2 linked regions of the Homo sapiens genome follow. The protein of the gene in region 1 purifies or fractionates together with the protein of each later gene. This does not show direct contact. Each region holds a gene or a part of one and is shown on either strand. Other genes may lie near its edges.

Region 1 (3,012 bases):
GCTCACTGCAACCTCCACCTCCCGGGTTCAAGTGATTCTCCTGCCTCAGCCTCCCAAGTAGCTGGGATTACAGGCGCCTGCCACCACGCCCAGCTAATTTTTGTATTTTTAGTAGAGACAGGGTTTCATAATGTTGGCCAGGCTGGTCTCGAACTCCTGACATCAGGAGATCCACCCACCTCAGCCCAGCCTCCTGAGTAGCTGGGACTACAGGCATACAACACCACACCCAGCTGATTTTTTGTGTTTTTGTACAGACAGGGGTTGCACCATGTTGGCCAGGCTGGTCTTGAACTCCTGACCTCAGGCGATCCGCCCACCTTGGCCTCCCAAAGTGCTGGGATTACAGGCGTAAGCCATCATGCCTGGGCAGACAGTTATATTTTAAAATGGAATAAAAGAAGAGAAACAGAACTGCCATTGATTGTATTGACTATCAGGTGCTATTTATTGTAAAAACACACCATTATTTTATGTAGGAAAAAACACTGCATGGTCAGGGGTGGTGGCTCTCGCCTGTAATCCCAGCACTTTGGGAGGCCAAGGCTGGCAGATTCCTTGAGCTCAGGAGTTCGAGAACAGCATGGGCAACATAGCAAAACCCCTTCCCTACAAAAAATACAAAAATTAGCTAGGTGTGGTGTCACACGCATACCTGTAGTCCCAGCTACTCAGGAGGCTGAGGTGGGAAGATTGCTTGAGCCCAAGAGGTTGAGGTTGCAGTGAGCTGTGATCGCACCACTGCACTCTAGCCTGGGTGACAGAGCAAGACCTTGTCTATAAAAAGCAAAAAACAAAGAAAAGAAGAGAAAAAAGGAAGAGAAATGTATTTCTCATAGTTCTGGAGGATGTTCATGATCAAGGCACCAGCAGGTTTAGTGTCTGATGCCTGGTTATCTGCTTCCAAGATGGCACCTTGAAAGCTGTGACCTCACATGGCAAAAGGGATGGAAAGACAAAAAGGGCAATATTAAGTGCTTTCTTCAACCTTGAGCCCCTTTTTAAAGAATTATTATTTTTTTTTTTTGTGTGAGACAGAGTCTCACTTTGTCACCCAGGCAGGAGTGCAGTGGCACAATCACAGCTCACTTCAGCCTTGACCTCCCTGGGCAACCCGGAGCCCTTTTCTAAGTGTGCTAATCCCATTCCACCCTCTGACTTAATCACCTTCCACAGGCCACACCTCTGCACTGGGGATTAAGATTCAACATGAGGCCGGGCACAGTGACTCATGCCTGTAATCCCAGCACTTTGGGAGGCCGAGGTGGGCAGATCACCTGAGGTTGGGAGTTTGAGACCAGCCTGAACAACATGGAGAAACCCCATCTCCACTAAAAATACAAACTAGCCAGGCATGGTGGTGCATGCCTGTAATCCCAGCTACTTGGGAGGCTGAGGCAGGAGAATCGCTTGAACCCGGGAGGCGGAGGTTGCGGTGAGCTGAGATCACGCCACTGCACTCCAGCCTGGGCAGCAAGAGTGAAACTCCATCTGAAAAAAAAAAAAAGATTCAACATGAACTTCTGAGGGGACATCATCATTCTAACCATGGCAAGGAGTCTTGGAACTGATGAAATGGAACAGTCCCTTCTTGTCCCTTTATTAACCAGAATTTTTGTGTGGTCTTCCAGGCACCACCAGGACCAGCTGATCATTCCAGCCCACAGCAATGGAGCCACATGACTCCTCCCACATGGACTCTGAGTTCCGATACACTCTCTTCCCGATTGTTTACAGCATCATCTTTGTGCTCGGGGTCATTGCTAATGGCTACGTGCTGTGGGTCTTTGCCCGCCTGTACCCTTGCAAGAAATTCAATGAGATAAAGATCTTCATGGTGAACCTCACCATGGCGGACATGCTCTTCTTGATCACCCTGCCACTTTGGATTGTCTACTACCAAAACCAGGGCAACTGGATACTCCCCAAATTCCTGTGCAACGTGGCTGGCTGCCTTTTCTTCATCAACACCTACTGCTCTGTGGCCTTCCTGGGCGTCATCACTTATAACCGCTTCCAGGCAGTAACTCGGCCCATCAAGACTGCTCAGGCCAACACCCGCAAGCGTGGCATCTCTTTGTCCTTGGTCATCTGGGTGGCCATTGTGGGAGCTGCATCCTACTTCCTCATCCTGGACTCCACCAACACAGTGCCCGACAGTGCTGGCTCAGGCAACGTCACTCGCTGCTTTGAGCATTACGAGAAGGGCAGCGTGCCAGTCCTCATCATCCACATCTTCATCGTGTTCAGCTTCTTCCTGGTCTTCCTCATCATCCTCTTCTGCAACCTGGTCATCATCCGTACCTTGCTCATGCAGCCGGTGCAGCAGCAGCGCAACGCTGAAGTCAAGCGCCGGGCGCTGTGGATGGTGTGCACGGTCTTGGCGGTGTTCATCATCTGCTTCGTGCCCCACCACGTGGTGCAGCTGCCCTGGACCCTTGCTGAGCTGGGCTTCCAGGACAGCAAATTCCACCAGGCCATTAATGATGCACATCAGGTCACCCTCTGCCTCCTTAGCACCAACTGTGTCTTAGACCCTGTTATCTACTGTTTCCTCACCAAGAAGTTCCGCAAGCACCTCACCGAAAAGTTCTACAGCATGCGCAGTAGCCGGAAATGCTCCCGGGCCACCACGGATACGGTCACTGAAGTGGTTGTGCCATTCAACCAGATCCCTGGCAATTCCCTCAAAAATTAGTCCCTGCTTCCAGGCCTGAAGTCTTCTCCTCCATGAACATCATGGACTGAGCTGGGGGAAGAAGGGATATCTACTGTGGTCTGGGCACCACCTCTGTGGGCACTGGTGGGCCATTAGATTTGGAGGCTACCTCACCTGGGCAGGGATGATGGCAGAGCCAGGCTGTTGGAAAATCCAGAACTCAAATGAGCCCCTTCATCCGCCTGTGGGCGCATACTACAGTAACTGTGACTGATGACTTTATCCTGAGTCCCTTAATCTTATGGGGCCGGAAGGAATGTCAGGGCCAGGTGCAGACCTTGGGGGAAGACTTT
Region 2 (3,500 bases), about 17 Mb from region 1:
AATATAAAAGAAATTGTTGAAAATTGGGATTGAGGCCGGGCACAGTGGCTCACGCCTGTAATCCCAGCACTTTGGGAGGCTGAGACGGGTGGATCGCCTGAGGTCAGGAGTTCGAGACCAGGCTGGCCAACATGGTGAAACCCTGTCTCTACTAAAAATACAAAAATTAGCCAAGCATGGTGGCATGCACCTGTAATCCCAGCTTCTCAGGAGGCTGAGGCAGGAGAATTGCTTGAACCTGATAGGTGGAGGTTGCAGTAAGCTGAGATTGTGCCACTGCACTCCAGCCTGGGCAACAGAGTGAGACTCTGTCTCAAAAAAAAGAAAAAGAAAATTGGGATTGACTCCTGAAGAAAACCTGGCTCAGGAATCTGTAGGACCCACACCAGATAAAACCTCAGGTGAGCCTCAACCTGTATTGGTTACAGATCCAAGGGAGTCCCAAGCCAGAGAGCTTATGAGAAATCATAGCTAGTCCCACATTTACCCATGACTAGCATCTTTCACGCTGGTCTGGAAAGATGTTCATGGATAACCTGAGTGGGAAGACTTGTCCAGATCACAGGTGCACCGCTGTGTCCACATCATGAAAGAGGGACCCTGCTCTCGAGTGAGCATGCTGGGAAAAGTATCCTTTGAAGTGCCAACAGGGACTATGCAGCAGACGGGCCTGAAGGGCCTTGGGTGGAGTGTGGAAGAAGAGAACCTAGGGCTGGGGGCTTGGAATTAGCCTTCACATTCCAGTGTAGCCGTGCTGACAAGGCCTCCGTCAGCTAGTGTGGCTGCCACGCACAGTGCTCTGACCAGCATTCTGTCTATGCTGGAGAATCATAGACAGGCGCACTACCTGTGCCTTCCTAATAGACTGGTAGCCAAAGCCCCCCATACCTCTAACCTTTCCAGGTTTCTCACACTGGAGAGGGAATAGTGTGAACTTCCCCTTCATGTTTTCTTTTGGCTGGGGGATAGATGCCTTCTCAGGGTCTGTCCTTGATTTCGAATTTGTCTAAAATGGATCTCATCCTCACCTCATGCGTGGTCACAGTGGTCCAGGAGGTGACCAGGAACCCAGGATGCTTATGATCAGGATGCGGGGTGTTCCTTGACCTGATCAGGCCTCCTTTCCCAAGAGGTGGTATGTGGGTATCTCAAAGACTGGTCTCAGTGCCTCCCAGCCAAGGGACATGGCATTACTTTCAAGGAGGAGCATTCAAAGCTAAGAGACTGACAATAAGGCCATCTAGAAGCTGCTGCATAAATAATCTTGGTCCTAGGGGGAATGCAGCAGCCTCCTGCTCCCCCTCACTCAGACAGGAAGCTATGGCTGAGAACTCCCTGTATCTCTGATTGAGCACTGGGTTCTACCTAAGGTGTTTTTTTTTTTTTTTTTTTTTTTTTTTTTTATTGATCATTCTTGGGTGTTTCTCGCAGAGGGGGATTTGGCAGGGTCATAGGACAATAGTGGAGGGAATGTCAGCAGATAAACAAGTGAACAAAGGTCTCTGGTTTTCCTAGGCAGAGGACCCTGTGGCCTTCCGCAGCGTTTGTGTCCCTGGGTACTTAAGATCAGGGAGTGGTGATGACTCTTAACGAGCATGCTGCCTTCAAGCATCTGTTTAACAAAGCACATCTTGCACCGCCCTTAATCCATTTAACCCTGAGTGGACACAGCACATGTTTCAGAGAGCACAGGGTTGGGGGTAAGGTCGCAGATCAACAGGATCCCAAGGCAGAAGAATTTTTCTTAGTACAGAACAAAATGAAAAGTCTCCCATGTCTACTTCTCTCTACACAGACACAGCAACCATCCGATTTCTCAATCTTTTCCCCACCTTTCCCGCCTTTCTATTCCACAAAACCGCCATTGTCATCATGGCCCGTTCTCAATGAGCTGTTGGGTACACCTCCCAGAGGGGGTCGTGGCCGGGCAGAGGGGCTCCTCACTTCCCAGTAGGGGCGGCCAGGCAGAAGCGCCCCTCACCTCCCGGATGGGGCGGCTGGCCGGGTGGGGGGCTGACCCCCACCTCCCTCCCGGACGGGGTGGCTGCCGGGCGGAGACGCTCCTCACTTCCCAGACGGGGTGGCTGCCGGACGGAGGGGCTCCTCACTTCTCAGACGGGGCGGCTGCCAGGCAGAGGGTCTCCTCACTTCTCAGACGGGGCGGCCGGGCAGAGACGCTCCTCACCTCCCAGACAGGGTCGCGGCCAGGCAGAGGCGCTCCTCACATCCCAGACGGGGCGGCGGGGCAGAGGCGCTCCCCACATCCCAGACTATGGGCGGCCGGGCAGAGACGCTCCTCACTTCCTAGATGGGATGGCAGCGGGGAAGAGGTGCTCCTCACCTCCTAGATGGGATGGCGGCCAGGCAGAGACGCTCCTCACTTCCCAGACGGTGTGGCGGCCGGGCAGAGGCTGCAATCTCAGCTCTTTGGGAGGCCAAGGCAGGCGGCTGGGAGGTGGTTGTAGCTAGCCGAGATCACGCCACTGCACTCCAGCCTGGGCACCATTGAGCACTGAGTGAACCAGACTCCGTCTGCAATCCCGGCACCTCGGGAGGCCGAGGCTGGCGGATCACTCGCGGTTAGGAGCTGGAGACCAGCCCGGCCAACACAGCGAAACCCGTCTCCACCAAAAAAATACGAAAACCAGTCAGGCGTGGCGGCGCGCGCCTGCAATTGCAGGCAGTCGGCAGGCTGAGGCAGGAGAATCAGGCAGGGAGGTTGCAGTGAGCCGAGATGGCAGCAGTACAGTCCAGCTTTGGCTCGGCATCAGAGGGAGACCGTGGAAAGAGAGGGAGAGGGAGACCGTGGGGAGGGGGAGTGGGAGAGGTAGAGGGAGAGGGAGAGGGAGAGCTACCTAAGGTGTTTTCTGATCTTTAGTGACCAAATCTCTGTCCTTAAGGTGCCCAAATTGCTGTCTGCTCTCTGTCCAGAAGAACCACCAGTCCATTCGTCAGCCCAGATTGTCAGCAAACACCTGGTAAGTGCTAGTGTGGCCAGGACGGGCATGAGATGTTCTTTGGGAGCATCGAGACTTGTTTTTGAGAAGCCGGATTGAGGCCTTTAAGTCCTGAACCTCATCAGCCCCAGGGAAATCACAGTGGGTTCTGAGAATAAAATCTCACTCAACAAGACTGCCTGGGCAAGTAATGACCTTGTAAGGAAGGGTCCATTATAGTGTTGGGACTCAGACACAGGAGCTCTCAATCTCAGCCTGAAAGACTCTAGTCATGGGTAAATGTGGGACTACCTATGATTCTCATAAGCTCTCTGGCTTGGGACTCCCTTGGATCTGTAACCAATCCAGGTAGAGGCTCACCTGAGGTTTTATCTGGTATGGGTCCTACAGATTCCTGAGCCAAGTTTTCTTCAGGAGTCAGTCCCAATTTTCTTTTTCTTTTTTTTTGAGACAGAGTCTCACTCTGTTGCCCAGGCTGGAGTGCAGTGGCACAATCTGTCCCCCTTCTAACTCTGATTTGAGCACACTCTTTAAGAGAGCACA

The links. The genes of interacting proteins can lie anywhere in the genome.
Region 2: the proteins of PTAFR (region 1) and EIF2B3 purify together in Homo sapiens (affinity purification with mass spectrometry; one large-scale study listed by BioGRID and IntAct). This does not show direct contact.

The regions. Positions count from the first base shown.
Region 1 is NC_000001.11:28,149,679-28,152,690, reverse strand, and holds part of PTAFR (platelet-activating factor receptor), read left to right. Parts: intron 1-1,631; 5' UTR 1,632-1,669; coding exon 1,670-2,698; 3' UTR 2,699-3,012. UniProt on the Homo sapiens protein: Receptor for platelet activating factor, a chemotactic phospholipid mediator that possesses potent inflammatory, smooth-muscle contractile and hypotensive activity.
Region 2 is NC_000001.11:44,875,096-44,878,595, reverse strand, and holds part of EIF2B3 (translation initiation factor eIF2B subunit gamma), read left to right. Parts: intron 1-2,900; coding exon 2,901-2,978; intron 2,979-3,500. UniProt on the Homo sapiens protein: Acts as a component of the translation initiation factor 2B (eIF2B) complex, which catalyzes the exchange of GDP for GTP on the eukaryotic initiation factor 2 (eIF2) complex gamma subunit.